3 linked regions of the Homo sapiens genome follow. The protein of the gene in region 1 interacts with the protein of each later gene in a biochemical or structural test. Each region holds a gene or a part of one and is shown in the gene's direction. Other genes may lie near its edges.

What was found.
Region 2: the proteins of RXRA (region 1) and TRIM24 form a complex in vitro, tested with the Homo sapiens proteins (3 studies listed by BioGRID).
Region 3: the proteins of RXRA (region 1) and NRIP1 form a complex in vitro, tested with the Homo sapiens proteins (2 studies listed by BioGRID).

Annotation. Positions count from the first base shown.
Region 1 is NC_000009.12:134,427,441-134,434,466, forward strand, and holds part of RXRA (retinoic acid receptor RXR-alpha), read left to right. Parts: intron 1-1,667; coding exon 1,668-1,800; intron 1,801-4,464; coding exon 4,465-4,556; intron 4,557-6,661; coding exon 6,662-6,767; intron 6,768-7,026. UniProt on the Homo sapiens protein: Receptor for retinoic acid that acts as a transcription factor.
Region 2 is NC_000007.14:138,582,235-138,589,260, forward strand, and holds part of TRIM24 (transcription intermediary factor 1-alpha), read left to right. Parts: intron 1-1,615; coding exon 1,616-1,765; intron 1,766-2,507; coding exon 2,508-2,717; 3' UTR 2,718-7,026. UniProt on the Homo sapiens protein: Transcriptional coactivator that interacts with numerous nuclear receptors and coactivators and modulates the transcription of target genes.
Region 3 is NC_000021.9:14,963,999-14,971,024, reverse strand, and holds part of NRIP1 (nuclear receptor-interacting protein 1), read left to right. Parts: intron 1-2,498; 5' UTR 2,499-2,832; coding exon 2,833-6,309; 3' UTR 6,310-7,026. UniProt on the Homo sapiens protein: Modulates transcriptional activation by steroid receptors such as NR3C1, NR3C2 and ESR1. Also modulates transcriptional repression by nuclear hormone receptors.

The DNA of each region.
Region 1 (7,026 bases):
CCATCAGACCGCCCGTGGTGCCGTCTGCATGCTCCCACGGTGATGGGGCACAGACCCCACCGTTCCTCCCTCATTTTGGTTGCACAGCCTGGGGCCAGTTGGGTGCCATCCCTGCCTGGTCTGTCAGCACACCTGGGCGGGGCGGCCTCGGGGGTGGGAACTCCCTCCTGGGGCCCTGGGATTACTCAGTTGTGAAATGGGGAGAATGGGGACGGTGACACCTGCCCCCGGGTTCCCCATGACAGGGTGGGTATGTGCTGGGAGGGTGTGGAGGGCCGAGCCGGAGCTGGCACGGTGGTCCCCACCAACTTCTTGCTGATCACTTACCCCCTCATGCCTCAGTTTCCCCCTCTGTAAAACAAAGTTAATGCCAGTTTTCCAGGATTACAGTTGGGATTAAGTGGGAAATTAATGACAGTGTCGGCCATAGAGGCTGGAGCCTCTAGAGCGCTCAGGGAGTGTGGAAGGTGCTGAAGGTGACTGTGTGACTGCAGGTGACTCCATGTCACCCTGTCTATAAGAGCTGTTAAAACAGCAGTGCGTGTGTGCGCGAGGGTCCCTGACTGTGTGACTGCAGGTGATTCCACGTCACCCGGTCTCCAGGAGCCCTTAAAACAGCAGTGCGTGTGCACGCGAGGGTCCCTGTTTCTTCCTCCCCGATGCCTGCTCTGCTTCATCTGCACTGGAACCTCATGTTGAGGGGCTGCTGTTACCTAACTGTCTGCCCCCCAGGGAACCCCCACTATGTTGAGAGGCTGCTGTTACCTAACCACCCGCCCCAGGGAACCCCCACTGTGTTGAGGGGCTGCTGTTACCTAACCACCTGACCCCCAGGGAACCCCCACTATGTTGAGGGGCTGCTGTTACCTAACTGTCCCCCAGGGAACCCCCTGATGTTGAGGGGCTGCTGTTACCTAACTGTCTGCCCCCCAGGGAACCCCCACTATGTTGAGAGGCTGCTGTTACCTAACCACCCGCCCCAGGGAACCCCCACTATGTTGAGGGGCTGCTGTTACCTAACCACCCACCCCCCAGGGAACCCCCCGATGTTGAGGGGCTGCTGTTACCTAACCACCCGCCCCAGGGAACCCCCACTATGTTGAGGGGCTGCTGTTACCTAACCACCCGCCCCAGGGAACCCCCACTATGTTGAGGGGCTGCTGTTACCTAACCTTCCCCCCTGGGAATCCCCCCGAAAGAGGCTGCGGCTCTCACGCACCTGCCTTCAGTTGGATAACCTGCTGTTTGGTGGCATTCCACGAAGGGCACACAGATCCCCGAGAGTCCTGGGACCCTGCTGGCAGCAGTGGTTCTGGGGCCATCCTGGGAACATCCCTGGGTGCTCTCCCACGTGCTCCGTGGCAGGAGTGTCCTGCACACGCGGGAGGAAGCTTCTGGGGCACATGAGTTTGTGAGCTCCCGGGTTCCACAAAGCTCAAGGGACTTTGTGTGGGACTTCTCAGGGCCTTTCGTGTGCCGGTGTGTACTGTAGAACGGGCATTCTCAGGAACCTCTTTTCTGTGGAACACTTCATGGGATTGGGGTTCCAGAGCCTGTCAGGATGGGTCGGTGACATGCTGCCTCTGTAGGGTCCCACCAGGGGCTGGGGAAGGGGCGAGCCCCGTGGGGCCTGGAGACAGCTGAGTGACTGTGTGCCTCCTCCCCAGGCTGGAATGAGCTGCTCATCGCCTCCTTCTCCCACCGCTCCATCGCCGTGAAGGACGGGATCCTCCTGGCCACCGGGCTGCACGTCCACCGGAACAGCGCCCACAGCGCAGGGGTGGGCGCCATCTTTGACAGGTGGGGGTGGTCCCGGGAGGGGCGAGGGCGCTTCGGTCACCTCCGCCACCAGGCCAGCTGAGTTCAGCCACCTTGGCCCCGGTGCACATCCTGCCTAGTATTATTTCAGTGCATGAAGGGTGCACACATGGAAAAAGAGAAAAGCATGAGGAGGAGGCTCAGAGCCCTGTGCCAGCCCTGCCTCTGGGGCATCTGTAACCACAGGGAGCACTTGGCCTATCTCCCTCCATCTCTTCTTTTTTCACGATCCCATGTATTTATCCGTGGGAAGGAAAGCTTCGTTTCTTTTTAAAGTGATTATACCGTAGATGCAGTTTTGTAAAAGTGTCAATTCCAGTTGGCATGTCGCAGGCTGCTTGAGGCTGGCACGGTAATGCCGTGGCAGCCCGGGGCGTGGTGCGGCCTAACGCCTGTCCCCGTGCAGGCAGGGGTGTCGGGACCGCAGTGCTTCACACCTCCCAGTGGAGCAAAGGGCTGCACCTCAGCCACTTCTCAGGGGACACACTGGAGGAGCAGCACTGGCTGGAGGGCCCACCCTCGTCCGGGCCTGGGTGGTCCGTGTCCGTTCATGTTGCCCTCCTGGAGTGCTGGCCAACTCCGCTCTGCCAGGCGAGGCGGACAGTAGCTTCCTTGTCCCTGTCTCTGCACAGCCTTTTTTTTTTTGAGATGGAGTCTCGCTCTGTCGCCCAGGCTAGATTGCAGTGGTGCAATCTTGGCTCACTGCAAGCTCCGCCTCCCGGGTTCACACCATTCTCCTGCCTCAGCCTCCCGAGTAGCTGGAACTACAGGCGCCCGCCACCACGCCCGGCTATTTTTTTTGTATTTTTAGTAGAGACGGGGTTTCACCGTGTTAGCCAGGATGGTCTCGATCTCCTGACCTCGTGATCCGCCCACCTCGGCCTCCCAAAGTGCTGGGATTACAGGCGTGAGCCGCCGCGCCCGGCCTCTCTGCACAGTCTTTCTCCACGAGTCTAGAGAGCCACACACACCAGACTGGGCCTTCTGGGGACCGGATGTCAGCTTCAGCTGGAGCGGGAAGGCTGGGGAGGGGCACTGCGGGGTCCCTTGGGCAGGGGTCTGCAACACAGGAGCCGTGGGTGGGGAGGAGCAGGCCACCTGGAGAACGTGGCCCCTGAACACGAGAGCCCCAACGTTAGAGGTGAGTAGAGGCCATGCACCGGCACTTACAGGGGGATTAATGCCCCAGCAGCAATGCCCCAGGGGGTGGTTCAGGTCCCAGAGTCCCAAGGGTGATCCTGGAACTTGACCTCCATGGGATGTGCCAAGTGCAAAAGGGTTTGTGGCCGCAGACGGTGGGCAAACGGTAGTTCAAACAGTGTCCTTGAGGGTCTTTGCCGCAGGACTTGTCAGGGCCTTTAAGAAGTTAGTGTACAGGAGGGTCCCCACGGGGGCTGCAGGGTGCAGTGTGCAGTGTGTATTGCCCACAGAAGCTTCTTTAGAGGGGTACTGGGGATATGGCTTTGGGAAGCGAAGCCCCAGCCACTTGCCCAGCTGACAGATCCTTTGTCTGGCTGGTAGAGAGATGGCGATGACAGAGGTTTCAGGGTTACATTCTCTGGGGTCCCACAGCAGTGACTACAGAGGCCCCGGCATTTCCTCGCCTTTTTTGCGAGTGGAATGCAAAGTCTGCCCTCAGTGGCCCAGGTCTTTTCCATGCCCGCTGCCCCATCCCTCTGCAGCTGTGTGCTCCTGCCTCAGAGCAGACATCGGGGGTCCCTCCCAGCTCCTGTTCTGTCCCACCCTGTTCTCCAGCCTCCTTCAGATCTTCTTCCAGGAATCAACCAGGGCACTCCCCATTCTGCAGACCCTCAGGGCCGCCCTTGGCCCACAGGGGAGAGCCCAGGCTCCTTAGGCAACCATCCCCACCTGGTCACCTCCTTTCCCCCGCTGTGGCCCACCCTTACTTCCTGGACACAGCAGTTGAGCTTTGGGGTTGGTGGGCAGGCTGCTGAGGCTAGGGGGCCCAGTACACTGCAGAGGCTGGTGTGATTCAGAATCCAGCTGCAGGGCTGGGGCAGCTGAGTCTGAATCCAAGAACGCCCCCAGCGTCTCCATGGAGGGAGCTGGCGGGCTTTCCCCGTGTTGAGGCTGGTGGATTTTTTTTCTCTGGTGACAAGAAGTAGACATGCCTCCCTCTGGCAGCCCCCACCCAGGGACACCAGGCCCTGGGGAAAGGTATCTTCCTGGACTGAAGGGAGCGGCTGGGGCTGTGGCATGGGAAGGGGCTTTGCCTCAGGTGGTGCTGGGTCCACAGCTGAGGAGGGACAGTGGTGTGTCTCACTGGGTTCGGGAGGGGTGGACTCTGTGCCCTCTGTGCAGCTGCGGCTCACCTCAGTTTAGCTGTCACGAGGCCCCTCCTTAGCACCTCGGTTCCCAGAATAAAGCCCCGCAGGCAGACCCTAGAGGGAGAGGAGAGGAGCCCACCCTCCGGGCAGGGCCAGGCAGGCCTGGCAGGGGCGGCACCTGGGCCTGGGTTCCAGCCCACTCCCTCTCGGGGTGTCTGGGAGTCCTTGCCTTGGCTTGGCCCATCTCAGCGGCCCTCGGGCCACGCCGGGCTCTCCAGAGGCCTTGGGTATCTGGGGTGTGGCCCTGGTGAGGGCTGCGACCTAACTGGGATGGGGTGTCTGCCCTCCTCCTCTGCAGGGTGCTGACGGAGCTTGTGTCCAAGATGCGGGACATGCAGATGGACAAGACGGAGCTGGGCTGCCTGCGCGCCATCGTCCTCTTTAACCCTGGTATGGCCTTCCTGCCTTGAGGCTTCTGGCCCCGTTCTCTGGTGGGGCAGAGGTGCCTGGGCCTCCTCCTGGCTGTACTTCTTGCCTCTGGCTACATGTGGGGCCAACTCCCACCCTCCTTGAGCTCAGTGTGCCCCCCTCCCAGTGAAAGTGTGGCCATGCTGCCTTCTGCTCACCTTGAGGGCCAGCCAAGGGGGCATGGTCCCTGGGCACAGGGGGACCCAGCAAGGCAGTTGTCATGAGGGGCTTGGTGGTGCCGTCTGGGCTCCGCGGTTCATAGTGTTCATCACTGTGCGTCGGAATCCAGACTCCGAAAGTGGCCAGCTGTGGTTGTGAACTTCCGGTGCTGAAGTTCAGGAGTCCCAAGCCCTGCAGGCTGGGGATGGGTCAGGCCTGCCGGGTGTTCCAGAGGGGACCAACCTCATCCCCAAGCCTCGGGTCCAGGGTGTTTCTGGGGCTGGGCCCCTGTGGTTGAGGAGAGCAGGGCTTGGGGCTGTGGGGCTGGGGCTGGGCACAGGCCTCCTGGCCGACAGTGCGGCCCTTCTCCAGCCTCTGGGTTCTCGGCTTGAAAAGCCTCCTAGGTGCTACTCCTTCGCCCAACAAGTGCTGACACGTGCCTGTTTGCTCGGTGCCCTGCTGGCATGGGAGGGCCCCTTCAAGCTGCTGGATAGGGCTTGCCTGCCTAGAGCTTGGGGTTTAGAGGGTCACGCCCACCAGCAGGCACCCCCGGCACGTGAGGGCAGGAGCACGGTTGGTCGAGGGTGCGGGCCACTTCCTCCGGGAGCTGCAAGTTAGGGGCCAGGGGAGTGAGAGGCACGGAGGTGGGGTGGGCTGGTGGAGGCAGCCCAGGCAGGGCCTTGAAAGTCTTGCTAAGTTTGGGTTTTTTCTTGGGGCCACAGGGAGCCAAGTCCTGAGGGGTTCCAGCCGGGAGGGAGCTATGGGTTTCTGTGTTTGGAAACTCAGCTCATTGCGTGATAGGGGCAGGTGGCTGGGGTGTGGAGGGAGAGGTTTGGGGCTGCTGTGGGGAGCTCACTTGGGCTATGGTGGAGGGAGTGGAGCCCTCTCGGCTCCTGGCCCTGACCTTCTGACCTTGCCCTTTGTCAGACCTGGCTCTGAGGGACCGGGCCGGGATGGAGATGGGCATCTTCTTGTGGGGAGAGCTTGTTTCCAGGGTCATTTTATCACCCAGGCTGTGCATCCGGGCCGTAATCCTGCCAGCTCGGAGGCTGAGTCATGCCACGGCCCGGCCCGGCCCGAGGAATCCCCATTCAGGTCCTGTGTGGTCTGGTTGCTAGAGCTGGGGCACCAGCAGGACCTGGGCACCGGCTTGCAGGGAGGGTGAGATTGTCTGGCACAAGCAGGGTCCAGGCACAGGCTTGCAGGGAAAGCGAAGAGACCAGGGCACAGGCATGCAGGGAGGGCGAGGAGACTGGCTGGAGCGGAGGCAGCTGGGGGAGCCAGGTACGTTGCCAAGGAGCCCAGGACACAGGCCAAGGTGGCATTCACAGGGGGTCCCTGGGCCTTGGGGGCCAAGGTGGCATTCACAGGGGGTCCCTGGGCCTTGGAGGTTTTGGTGGCTGCAATCTTAGCCTCTCTGTCCACTCTAGGCTCTTGAGCCCGGGTCCTGAGCTCAGGACTCCGCAAGCACACCGAGGATGGGTTTCCGCAGGGTCTGGGTACTCCTGGGGGCAGCAGCGCTATCTCCCATCCATGTTATGGGGCTGGGACCCAAGGGCAGCAGCAGCATCCATTGTCTCTCCCAGTTCCCAAGGCGGCTGGAAGGAAGGCAGCAGATCCCTGACACTTTATCGATGGGGAAACCGAGTCTCTGGAGGTCAAATAGTTGACCCAAGGTCACGTGGCTGGCAAGTGGCAGAGCTGAGCCTGGACCCAGAGCAGCCTGGCCTGGCCGTGGGTTCCACAGTCGTCCCCCTGCCACCAGGCTCTGGGGGAGCGGGCGGAGGCATGTCCAGCGGCATTCCTCCACCACCTGCTCTGCCCATGGTGGGGCAGCCTGGGAGACCCCACACAAGCCTGGGTCCTGGGGGCAGGTGCCCGAGACACGCCCCAGCTGAGGGTTCTGACCTGTGGCTTCTTCCTTTCAGACTCCAAGGGGCTCTCGAACCCGGCCGAGGTGGAGGCGCTGAGGGAGAAGGTCTATGCGTCCTTGGAGGCCTACTGCAAGCACAAGTACCCAGAGCAGCCGGGAAGGTGGGTCCCGCCCCGTCCCACACACACCCCAGACCCAGGCTCTTGTCTCCAGAGCCCCCACCCCCTGCAAGGCCATTTTATGTGAATGAGAAGGTGGCACCCTCCCCAGGCCCAGCCCATGCCAGCAGGTCCTGAGCAGGCAGCAGGAGGTCCTCCAGGCCAGTGGGCTGTGGCGGGCACACCCCACAGGCCCACGTCGTATCCCCACTGGAAGGATTACCTTGCACCTGGCGCATAGTAGGTGCTTCTCTTTGTTCAG
Region 2 (7,026 bases), on another chromosome or scaffold:
TCATATTGAAAGTTTGATGTGACTGTGGCCGGGCGCGGTGGCTCACGCCTATAATCCCAGCACTTTGGGAGGCCGAGGCGGGCGGATCACGAGGTCAGGAGATAGAGACCATCCTGGCTAACACGGTGAAACCCCGTCTCTACTAAAAATACAAAAAATTAGCCAGGTGTGGTGGCAGGCGCCTGTAGTCCCAGCTACTCGGGAGGCTGAGGCAGGAGAGTGGCGTGAACCTGGGAGGCGGAGCTTGCAGTGAGCCGAGATCATGCCACTGCACTCCAGCCTGGGCAAAAGAGCAAGACTCCGTCTCAAAAAAAAAAAAAAAAAAGTTTGATGTGACTTTAACGCATAATTTTAGAGTGCTGGAAAGGGCCTGGTACCCCAAAAGAGTATTCTTCTAATGTCTGAACCCCGGAGGCGGAGGTTGCAGTGAGCCGAGATTGCGCCATTGCTCTCCAGCCTGGGCAACAAGAGCAAAACTCTGTCCCAAAAAAAAAATTTTTTTTCATTTGTTCTACAGTTTGATAAATCTCAAATTAATACAAAGTTGAGAAGAAAATCAGCTTAGTAAATACAGTCAGCTTCTCTCTTAAGAACAGGTTTTGAGAACTTGATATAGGAAATAAATACCTCCAGGGAGAAGGGTCTTTTGTACCCAAAAGAGGCAGGGTAAAGAAGTCGAGAGGCTTGTAACAACATTACCAACTTGAAAATGTAACCTTGAATTGTACTTTTTATTATCCTGGCTTACAGTTACGTTATTAATACCAACAATGACAAAGTAGCCCCCTTTTTCTTAATAAATATCATCTCATTTAGTCTGTACAAAATGCTGTGAGTTTGGCAGGATTATCCCTATTTGAAATATGAAGAAACTGAGGTTAAGTAGCTTACCCAGGACCATGACACTGAGCAGCAGAGCTGGGGATTAAACCCAGATTCAAAGTCCTTCTTCCTCTTGTATAATACATGCAGCAAAAACATGTCAGATTCTACTAGAAATGATATTCTTCCTAGTAATTGCTTTTTGTTTAATAATGAAGAAAAAAATCTAGATGATTAAGAGGAAATATGTGAAGACAAGTTTTTTCATTAAAAATAATTGGGGCTGGGTGCAGTGGCTCACGCCTGTAATCCCAACATTTTGGGAGGCTGAGGCAGGCAGATTGCTTGAACCCAGGAGTTTGAGACCAGCCTGGGCAACATGGCAAAACCCCATCTCTACAAAAAATACAAAAATTAGCCGGCTATGTTAGCGCATGCCTGTAACCCCAGCTACGCGAGAGGCTGAGGTGAGAGGATCACTTAAGCCCAGGAGGCAAAGTTTGCAGTGAGCCGAGATTGTGTCACTGCACTCCAGCCTGGGTGACAGAGCAAGACCCTGTCTCAAAAATAATAATTGGTTAAACTTTTGGAAAAAGTCACACAAACCTTTACCAGTGTGTGTGGAAGGCAGTGGGCACTTGTAAACACTGTTAAATGGGTTTCTTTACTAATGGCAAATAGCACAGAGAAAAGCAATGAGAACATTCTGAATTTTAGAGCACATCTCATAGAATATATTTAGGACAAGGTGGAATTTAGCTATTTGTATTATAACATCTCATTTTTTTAATAGGTGCCTGATTATTACAAAATAATTAAAAATCCAATGGATTTGTCAACCATCAAGAAAAGACTACAAGAAGATTATTCCATGTACTCAAAACCTGAAGATTTTGTAGCTGATTTTAGATTGATCTTTCAAAACTGTGCTGAATTCAATGAGGTGAGGCTAGGGGAGGGAAGGGGGCAGGAAGGAACAGCAGTGTGAAAATCATTTTATTACTAAACACCTTGTCAACATAGGAGACCAAGATGTCTGAGTTAGAATAAATTTCCAACTTTTCAGATCAGGGAATGCAAGAGATAATTCAGATAACTCTGTCCACATTTATATTCAAAGGTTTATTAGATGGTGATGGAAATGCAAATTACAGCTGATAACTGAAAGACAAAATGTTTTTCTCTGACCTAGACATATTCTTTATCATTCCCACCTGTATTTCTTATTTTTATGTTGATCTTGAAATATTAAGGATGTGGGCCAAATAGCTCTAATTTAAAAATTTCTCATCTGTCAGTTCATCTACACATCAGTCAGACTTAGAACCTTTTGCTGCTGGTGGTTTGTTCTCTGTTACTCATTCTAATAGTACTACATTTAATTTGTTCTAAAAATACCTGGTTCATGATCCTATGGTTATGGAATCCTAACTGATATGTGTTTGGCAATATAGTCCTACCATTACCACCTTCTTTTAGAATAATCCAGGCTTTTACTTTTATCTTTTTTCCACACTTCTGAATCTTTTATTTTAGCTGGCCTTCTGTACAGAGACTTTGTCTAGTCCTAAACTATTATTTCAATGACTATGCATGAACACTTTTCAAAACAGCTCATTAATATATATAATCTCAGAAGTCAAAAGTGTGTCCTTTTTTTACTCATTTTTATTTTTACTCCACAGCCTGATTCAGAAGTAGCCAATGCTGGTATAAAACTTGAAAATTATTTTGAAGAACTTCTAAAGAACCTCTATCCAGAAAAAAGGTTTCCCAAACCAGAATTCAGGAATGAATCAGAAGATAATAAATTTAGTGATGATTCAGATGATGACTTTGTACAGCCCCGGAAGAAACGCCTCAAAAGCATTGAAGAACGCCAGTTGCTTAAATAATATGCAGCACCACTAGCTTGTGCTGGTTTTTAGATTTTTTTGTTTTCAAAAAAACATTTGTCAGTAATTTAACATCACTACAAAAAGAAGAGTTTGTGACTATTCTCATCTCTGTTTTGGACGTTTACTAGACTTTGATTTCCTTAATAGCCCATTTCTGTTAACCTCTTATCACTAAGAAAGAAAGGAAAGAAGGAGATGAATAGAAGAAAGAAAATGGAAAGAAGGAAAAAAGGAGGATAGAAAAAGGATGGAAGAAAGAAGCATTGAAAACAAAGACATTCTTCCCACTTCTTGGATTTTTAAACCACAGTCTGGAGTGATAGCTACTGTAGAAAGGAAATAGACTTTGTATGAACTCTTTAAGTTGAAAAGTAAAAAATATATGTGGTTTGGATGTGTGCTTTAATTCAGCTTTAGAAATTAATACCACTACCCGTGAATTATATGGCCTGACAATATGAATTAGGTGTACTGTACTGAAGAACAGTACTCCACAAACATGGGTGGTAACAAGAGTTCCATCCCAGGAGGCCAAACGGTGCAACAGAAGGGTAGGTTAGATGCTATTAAGAAGGCACTTAATAGTACATCATGTAAGATGGCAACTGTATTAAAGAAAAATCCGGAAAACAAATGTTTGATTTTTGTTTTTGTTTTTATCTTGTCTGTAGAGGTATTTTGGTATAGCAGGTTTTCAAGGCCATTTTTTATACATTTCTAGATCTAGATTTTCAACTTCTTCCACTGAGGGAAGTATATACATTTGGGTTTGCTGTGTGTCTATGTGAGGTTTAATTGTACAGGTGATCCTTTTACAACAAGCCTCATTGTTTGCAGTATAGCTTTTAGTGGAACTACCCAAAATATAAATACAGCAGCGTGCACTGTATTTGATGTGAGGGTTCTTCATCATATACCCTACTGGGCATTAAATATAAGTTCCTCTGAAAGGGACTCGTTTTTGTGGTTTTCATCTGTCTATAATTTGGAATGAAAATGTGTTGTAGGATTTTGGGAGCAGGCAGCTGGGGGGAATTAATAGTGATTTTTTTTTTTTCCTGAAGCATCTATCTCATGTTTTTCTTTTGAGAGTCAGAACATCAAACTTAATCTTTGATCTGACTTCTGATTTTATTCTTCTGATTGATTGATAGAGGTACAAAAGACTTATCTTCTGAGGACAAGCATATTCTTAATGTGCCAGACCTACCCGGTTCAGCTGATATAGATAGATAGATAGATAGAAGAAAATTGCTGTGCCATACATTAATCCAGCATTTGACACAATATCTAAATGGTTTGCCGAAGTTAATCTGTATTTATAAAACATTAACTGGAGTAAATTTTTCTCCTTAGGATGATAGAATAAAAAGAGCTCACTTGAAAGAAGGCTATTATTTGCATTATATCACCTGCCATAAATTTAACATAGAAGACTTGGTTTTATCTACATGGCTTTACTTCTTAAAGTGGAAAATATCCTGTGGCTAATTCATTGGGTTTTCAGGTACTGCTAAAGATAAAATACAGGGAGAAAATAACTTGTTAGCAATAGATCCCCATTGTTTATATATATAGGTCTTGTTCATAATATGTCAATTATGTATTGTTAAAAAGTCCTACTCACTTTTCAAATATGTGTTACATGGTAATGTTTGTCATTGTTGTTTTAAAGTTGCATTTGACATTTGTTCTCCAAAGAGTGTTTGAACAGATTTTGATAACAGTGCATACACCTTTTGTCTTTTTTTGCTCCAGCATTTTATTTTTAGCACAGCAGCTGTGGAGCTTTTGCTGATAATTTTATTGTTGGTATCTTAGAATACTGTTCGTCTGACAGTTTATTCTTCCATACTTGTCTCCCAAGTTAAAACAGAGCAAAACAGATAAATTATTTTGAGAATCATCACAAAAGGGAGTTAGAACTTGTGAGACTAAAACTATAATTTCCTAAATGTGACTAATGAACCCCAAACTGTCACTATTACATTCAGTGCCATATTTATCTTTCAAAACAGTATTTGTTTCACCCTAACCATCTTTGGCTGAATGAAAGGCAGTTGAGAACCATCTTTTGGTCATACATAATATAATTATATTAAAAGTAAAGATCGGGGCTGGGCGCAGTGGCTCACACCTGCAATCCCACCAGCACTTTGGGAGGCCAAGGTGGGCGGATCACAAAGTCAAGAGTTCGAGATCAGCCTGGCCAACATTGTGAAACCCCGCCTCTACAAAAAATACAAAAATTAGCCGGACATGGTGGCGTGCAACTGTAATCCCAACTACTCAGGAGGCTGAGACAGGAGAATCACTTGAACGCAGGAGGCAGAAGTTGCAGTGAGCCAAGATCTCACCATTGCACTCCAGCCTGAGTGACAGAGACTCAGTCTCAAAAACAAAAAGTAAAGGTCTTGGGTTTCTCTCTGTAAATAGCCTTTGTGTAATGGTCTTTAGATTAATATCCTTTGACTTTATTAATAAGTACCTGTGTGCCCAGGTGGATCTCAGCTAAGTCATCCTTAAATTCTGTTCAAATAGAAATAAACCATAAAATGAGCCTAACTATAACCCACACTCACTTATCAAGCATTCCCCCAAAAGTTCAGTGCGATTCAGGTAACCTTGACCTAAACTTGTACACTCCGGTGTACATCTTTGACCATAAACTCTGGGAGATTTCCCTCTGGATTTGGGATCAGGAGCCCAGTAGGGCCCCATTGCTGAATGTTTATCACACTTCTGGCTAGGGCTTATGGATGAGCAGACCACGTAGGAGCTAGGATTTACTCAGTTCCACCTCACTGACAGCTTTTCTAGGTGCCAAGCAACTGACTTTTCCTGTGTAAGGAAGCCCAAGTACTTGACCAGTGATATATATGGCCATGGCAAAAGTATAAATGGATGGATGTAGACCATATTCAACGCAGAATACATTTTAGATCGGTATCTGGCATTGTAATCATTTTGTCTTTTGAATTAACATGCCCTGCTTGTCTTTTCTGAATGGAAGGGTAGGAAAGTGGAAGGTACTAAAAAGGAAAATGTAGTTTTAGTTTCTTTTCTAAGCTAAAGAACTGGCTTTACTACTGCTATATTTTACTACCACATAGTAGTGTAGATGTAGTATAACTTGCTTAGGAATGCTTTCAAAAAGGTTACCTCCATAGTCAAAAAAAGGGGGAGTATACAGCTGATTGTTGCATTTATGAAACTGCATTTCAATATGCTATGCTGTTACTGTGCTTAGACACTTCCTTACGTTTGAGTTCCAAGGAGAGAGAGTGAGAAGAGGAACTCCTTTTGCTGAGCTCTGGTCCAAATTAATGTGAATCCCCAAAGTAAATTGCTGCATATGAACAACAGGTTTTAGGTTTAAATTGAAGATACATTCATTTTATATGTATTTGTTGTGAATGAGAGAAATTGAGTGATCTGATTGGCCATTAAAATTATGGTGAATGGGTCGGGCGCAGTGGCTCACGCCTGTAATCCCAGCACTTTGGGAGGCCGAGGTGGGTAGATACCTGAGGTCAGGAGTTTGAGACCAGCCTGACCAACATGGTGAAACCCCATCTCTACTAAAAATACCAAAATCACCAGGGTGTGGTGGCCCATGCCTGTAATCCTAGCTACTCGGGAGGCTGAGGCAGGAGAATCGGCTTGAACCCAGGAGGCAGAGGTTGCAGTGAGCTGAGATCGCACCACTGTAGTCCAGCCTGGGTGTCAGAGCAAGACTCTGTCACAAAAAGAAAAATTATGGGGAATGGCCGGGCGCGGTGGCTCACACCTGTAATCCCAGCACTTTGGGAGGCCGAGGTGGGTGGATCACCTGAAGTCAGGAGCTCAAGACCAGCCTGGCCAACATGGTGAAACCCCACCTCAACAGAATATACAAAAAAATTAGCTGGGTGTGGTGGCGGGTGCCTGTAATCTCAGCTACTTTGGGATGCTGAGGCAGGAGAATAGCTTGAACCCAGGAGGTGGAGGTTGCAGTGAGTCGAGATTGCACCATTGCACTCCAGCCTGGGCAACAAGAGCAAAACTCTGTCTCAAAAAAAAAAAAAAATGGTGACCATGCGTTCAACCATATAATTTCTTACTGAAATTGAGCTCCTCCTTTTGAATAACCATGTACATATTTTTAAAAGTATTTTATAGCCCTATGTAAATTAATAGTTGATGTCTTTTTATAAATGTTTATTGCATATTCATCTTGAATGTGAATTTACTGTTGTAATTCACATACTGGTGTCATGTTTCTGAGTGAGAATAATGCTAGTCAGTCAGATCACAGATTTTTCTC
Region 3 (7,026 bases), on another chromosome or scaffold:
TACTTTCTCTGTGAAGATAGGAAATAAATGGTAGAGAGGTAAATAAATGGTAAAATACAGTGTTAGAGCTCCTTTACAAGGAAACTGTGATAATTCCTTTTTAAATCAACTTCCAAATCTGCTTTGTAAATTCAGAAATGTGTAAATTCAGTCTTTTTAAAGCAATGAATAATACTTTGCAAATTATATCATGCACAGTAAAAAGTAGAAAGCAATAACAGGAGTAATATGAACTCAAAGATGCTCCTTATTTCATTCTTATTCTTAAATAAAGTATGTTTTATGGCTGTTTACAAACCAGTTTTCAAATGACTGGTATGATTTTGACTTTCTTGAGTCTACCCAAGAGCAAAAAGGTTGGCAGTGGTGTGGAGAGAAATACAGTGGACTTGCATATCCCATTAAATGGTTGTTAAATGTCTTAACTAGTTGAGAATTAATTGTATATTAGCAGTTGTTATTTTTGTTTTGTTTGTTTTGAGATAGAGTGTCATTCTGTCACCCAGGCTGGAGTGCAGTGGCACGATCTCGGCTCACTGCAACCTCTGCCTACCAGGTTCAAGCAATTCTTCTGCCTCAGCCTCCTGAGTAGCTGGGACTACAGGCGCATGCCACCATACCCGGCTAATTTTTGTATTTTTACTAGAGATGGGGTTTCACCATTTTGGTCAGGTTGGTCTCAAACTCCTGACCTCAGGCGATCCACCCACCTCGGCCTCCTAAATTGCTGGGATTACAGGTGTGAGCCACCGTACCTGGCCATATTAAGTTTTTTGAGAGAATTAGAAAACTGGGTTTCCTCAACTCCAAGATGTTATCAGTTGTAAAATGTACCCGTATGTTTTATACCACTAAGAAAGAAAAATAAGCCTCCAATTAAGCAACATGCCATCAATTGTAAAATATAACCAGAGGGGGGAGAAAAGTAGTGTTTAGCTGGGATACCTCCCTACTCCCTGAAAAACAAGTCAGGGTTTTATTAGTAAATGAAAATGGGAGAATGGATATTTGGTGGCAGTCATGATAACCATTTCATTTCTATATCATTATTAACCTCTTAAAATATCCATCTTAAGTACATTATGGCAAAGCTTCTTAAAATGGTGGCATTGGAATCTCAAGAAAGTCTCTTCTCATCCTACTCCTTACACAGTTGAAATTAATTGTTGCTGCCTCCTTTCTGTATCTTTTTCTTTGGCTATCATTTCTTATCCTTTTAATCAATAAATTCAACAATTTGATACAATCAGATAATTATTTCCTAAAGTTTGACTTAGAGTTAAGCATTGTACTTAAAAAGCTACAGGGTAGTCTTTCAATTAAAATTTATCTTTTAAATTCCATAGGGACCAAGGTATTTGTTGATAGCTTCAGGTCTGATAACTTAAACAAAATGTTCTGGCATCTTGAAAAACAAACTGCATGGAATTTATTCCAGCTTCTCTTCCAAAGGTGTCATGGCCCCCCTTCCTTAGGTCAATTTTGACACTTACCTATCAAGTTTTCAGAAATGCAATGAGTTCTTGCTTCTTCTGTTGTGTATGTGTTAGTGATAGGAAATTTTTTGGTCTCTTCTTAGATAATAAATATCATTGGAATATTTTTCAAACTGTGACTAAAATGTCTTTGGCATTCTCCATTGTACTTTTTATATATGTTTATGCCCTCCCTGTCTTCTGTATCTGTAAGGAATGGACCTGACATTAAGACTTCTCCATAGAGCACATGAGTAAGGATTTACTAACGAACTACATTAAACCCTTGATAGCCCTGAACAAGCATCTAAAGAATCACTCCTCTCTGTCTTTAATAAGTCATGGTAAAAAGTATGGGTAGGTAAGTTTATGACTGTATTTTAATGTTTATGAATATGATTAAGATGGTCACACTTTGAACAGACTCACAAAATAATCTTCAACTTGTTAGTGGTTTCATTTTTTTGAAAACGGAAATTCTAAAAATTACTTATGGAATGTCTGGTGTTTGGGGGATGATGTCAGAAATGAATCTGTTCTGTTGGCCTCAACCCCACATCAGACTCATCAGAGTCTGCATCTCTTTTCCTTTTTCTGCACATCTACTTTTGTTTCTTCCTAAGTGCCCAGTAATGTAAGGAAGCAAGTTCTAGTTCCCCTGTAGAGCTATAAAGCTATAAAGGAGACTGAACATTCACATTACTTTGCAGAAAGGTGCTTATGAAAATTCAGAGACTTGGCGGCTTTGGAAGATGGCTATGTAACATTAAAGTATGTTCTCTTCTCTAATGATTTGATCATTTTAACAGTATGCATTAACCCACAGGATTTCCAGTAGACATTTTCAATTGAATAGGAACGGCAATAAAACAAATTACTAAAGTGACTATAATCCATTTATATGTCTATTATTTATATGTAATATATATATACATTTACAGATGCTATATTATTTTGCTTGTAGGTATCATAACGTGATTCTAGTTCTGCCTCCTTAACTATTCTTATTTTTATTTTTTTTAGAACACTGATATTTGCATTTAATGGGGAACAAAAGATGAAGAAGGAAAAGGAATATATTCACTAAGGATTCTATCTGCTTACTGCTACAGACCTATGTGTTAAGGAATTCTTCTCCTCCTCCTTGCGTAGAAGTTGATCAGCACTGTGGTCAGACTGCATTTATCTTGTCATTGCCAGAAGAAATCTTGGACAGAATGTAACAGTACGTCTCTCTCTGATTGCGATGGAAGGTGATAAACTGATACTCCTTTATTAAAGTTACATCGCACTCACCACAGAAAACCATTCTTTAAAGTGAATAGAAACCAAGCCCTTGTGAACACTTCTATTGAACATGACTCATGGAGAAGAGCTTGGCTCTGATGTGCACCAGGATTCTATTGTTTTAACTTACCTAGAAGGATTACTAATGCATCAGGCAGCAGGGGGATCAGGTACTGCCGTTGACAAAAAGTCTGCTGGGCATAATGAAGAGGATCAGAACTTTAACATTTCTGGCAGTGCATTTCCCACCTGTCAAAGTAATGGTCCAGTTCTCAATACACATACATATCAGGGGTCTGGCATGCTGCACCTCAAAAAAGCCAGACTGTTGCAGTCTTCTGAGGACTGGAATGCAGCAAAGCGGAAGAGGCTGTCTGATTCTATCATGAATTTAAACGTAAAGAAGGAAGCTTTGCTAGCTGGCATGGTTGACAGTGTGCCTAAAGGCAAACAGGATAGCACATTACTGGCCTCTTTGCTTCAGTCATTCAGCTCTAGGCTGCAGACTGTTGCTCTGTCACAACAAATCAGGCAGAGCCTCAAGGAGCAAGGATATGCCCTCAGTCATGATTCTTTAAAAGTGGAGAAGGATTTAAGGTGCTATGGTGTTGCATCAAGTCACTTAAAAACTTTGTTGAAGAAAAGTAAAGTTAAAGATCAAAAGCCTGATACGAATCTTCCTGATGTGACTAAAAACCTCATCAGAGATAGGTTTGCAGAGTCTCCTCATCATGTTGGACAAAGTGGAACAAAGGTCATGAGTGAACCGTTGTCATGTGCTGCAAGATTACAGGCTGTTGCAAGCATGGTGGAAAAAAGGGCTAGTCCTGCCACCTCACCTAAACCTAGTGTTGCTTGTAGCCAGTTAGCATTACTTCTGTCAAGCGAAGCCCATTTGCAGCAGTATTCTCGAGAACACGCTTTAAAAACGCAAAATGCAAATCAAGCAGCAAGTGAAAGACTTGCTGCTATGGCCAGATTGCAAGAAAATGGCCAGAAGGATGTTGGCAGTTACCAGCTCCCAAAAGGAATGTCAAGCCATCTTAATGGTCAGGCAAGAACATCATCAAGCAAACTGATGGCTAGCAAAAGTAGTGCTACAGTGTTTCAAAATCCAATGGGTATCATTCCTTCTTCCCCTAAAAATGCAGGTTATAAGAACTCACTGGAAAGAAACAATATAAAACAAGCTGCTAACAATAGTTTGCTTTTACATCTTCTTAAAAGCCAGACTATACCTAAGCCAATGAATGGACACAGTCACAGTGAGAGAGGAAGCATTTTTGAGGAAAGTAGTACACCTACAACTATTGATGAATATTCAGATAACAATCCTAGTTTTACAGATGACAGCAGTGGTGATGAAAGTTCTTATTCCAACTGTGTTCCCATAGACTTGTCTTGCAAACACCGAACTGAAAAATCAGAATCTGACCAACCTGTTTCCCTGGATAACTTCACTCAATCCTTGCTAAACACTTGGGATCCAAAAGTCCCAGATGTAGATATCAAAGAAGATCAAGATACCTCAAAGAATTCTAAGCTAAACTCACACCAGAAAGTAACACTTCTTCAATTGCTACTTGGCCATAAGAATGAAGAAAATGTAGAAAAAAACACCAGCCCTCAGGGAGTACACAATGATGTGAGCAAGTTCAATACACAAAATTATGCAAGGACTTCTGTGATAGAAAGCCCCAGTACAAATCGGACTACTCCAGTGAGCACTCCACCTTTACTTACATCAAGCAAAGCAGGGTCTCCCATCAATCTCTCTCAACACTCTCTGGTCATCAAATGGAATTCCCCACCATATGTCTGCAGTACTCAGTCTGAAAAGCTAACAAATACTGCATCTAACCACTCAATGGACCTTACAAAAAGCAAAGACCCACCAGGAGAGAAACCAGCCCAAAATGAAGGTGCACAGAACTCTGCAACGTTTAGTGCCAGTAAGCTGTTACAAAATTTAGCACAATGTGGAATGCAGTCATCCATGTCAGTGGAAGAGCAGAGACCCAGCAAACAGCTGTTAACTGGAAACACAGATAAACCGATAGGTATGATTGATAGATTAAATAGCCCTTTGCTCTCAAATAAAACAAATGCAGTTGAAGAAAATAAAGCATTTAGTAGTCAACCAACAGGTCCTGAACCAGGGCTTTCTGGTTCTGAAATAGAAAATCTGCTTGAAAGACGTACTGTCCTCCAGTTGCTCCTGGGGAACCCCAACAAAGGGAAGAGTGAAAAAAAAGAGAAAACTCCCTTAAGAGATGAAAGTACTCAGGAACACTCAGAGAGAGCTTTAAGTGAACAAATACTGATGGTGAAAATAAAATCTGAGCCTTGTGATGACTTACAAATTCCTAACACAAATGTGCACTTGAGCCATGATGCTAAGAGTGCCCCATTCTTGGGTATGGCTCCTGCTGTGCAGAGAAGCGCACCTGCCTTACCAGTGTCCGAAGACTTTAAATCGGAGCCTGTTTCACCTCAGGATTTTTCTTTCTCCAAGAATGGTCTGCTAAGTCGATTGCTAAGACAAAATCAAGATAGTTACCTGGCAGATGATTCAGACAGGAGTCACAGAAATAATGAAATGGCACTTCTAGAATCAAAGAATCTTTGCATGGTCCCTAAGAAAAGGAAGCTTTATACTGAGCCATTAGAAAATCCATTTAAAAAGATGAAAAACAACATTGTTGATGCTGCAAACAATCACAGTGCCCCAGAAGTACTGTATGGGTCCTTGCTTAACCAGGAAGAGCTGAAATTTAGCAGAAATGATCTTGAATTTAAATATCCTGCTGGTCATGGCTCAGCCAGCGAAAGTGAACACAGGAGTTGGGCCAGAGAGAGCAAAAGCTTTAATGTTCTGAAACAGCTGCTTCTCTCAGAAAACTGTGTGCGAGATTTGTCCCCGCACAGAAGTAACTCTGTGGCTGACAGTAAAAAGAAAGGACACAAAAATAATGTGACCAACAGCAAACCTGAATTTAGCATTTCTTCTTTAAATGGACTGATGTACAGTTCCACTCAGCCCAGCAGTTGCATGGATAACAGGACATTTTCATACCCAGGTGTAGTAAAAACTCCTGTGAGTCCTACTTTCCCTGAGCACTTGGGCTGTGCAGGGTCTAGACCAGAATCTGGGCTTTTGAATGGGTGTTCCATGCCCAGTGAGAAAGGACCCATTAAGTGGGTTATCACTGATGCGGAGAAGAATGAGTATGAAAAAGACTCTCCAAGATTGACCAAAACCAACCCAATACTATATTACATGCTTCAAAAAGGAGGCAATTCTGTTACCAGTCGAGAAACACAAGACAAGGACATTTGGAGGGAGGCTTCATCTGCTGAAAGTGTCTCACAGGTCACAGCCAAAGAAGAGTTACTTCCTACTGCAGAAACGAAAGCTTCTTTCTTTAATTTAAGAAGCCCTTACAATAGCCATATGGGAAATAATGCTTCTCGCCCACACAGCGCAAATGGAGAAGTTTATGGACTTCTGGGAAGCGTGCTAACGATAAAGAAAGAATCAGAATAAAATGTACCTGCCATCCAGTTTTGGATCTTTTTAAAACTAATGAGTATGAACTTGAGATCTGTATAAATAAGAGCATGATTTGAAAAAAAGCATGGTATAATTGAAACTTTTTTCATTTTGAAAAGTATTGGTTACTGGTGATGTTGAAATATGCATACTAATTTTTGCTTAACATTAGATGTCATGAGGAAACTACTGAACTAGCAATTGGTTGTTTAACACTTCTGTATGCATCAGATAACAACTGTGAGTAGCCTATGAATGAAATTCTTTTATAAATATTAGGCATAAATTAAAATGTAAAACTCCATTCATAGTGGATTAATGCATTTTGCTGCCTTTATTAGGGTACTTTATTTTGCTTTTCAGAAGTCAGCCTACATAACACATTTTTAAAGTCTAAACTGTTAAACAACTCTTTAAAGGATAATTATCCAATAAAAAAAAACCTAGTGCTGATTCACAGCTTATTATCCAATTCAAAAATAAATTAGAAAAATATATGCTTACATTTTTCACTTTTGCTAAAAAGAAAAAAAAAAGGTGTTTATTTTTAACTCTTGGAAGAGGTTTTGTGGTTCCCAATGTGTCTGTCCCACCCTGATCCTTTTCAATATATATTTCTTTAAACCTTGTGCTACTTAGTAAAAATTGATTACAATTGAGGGAAGTTTGATAGATCCTTTAAAAAAAAGGCAGATTTCCATTTTTTGTATT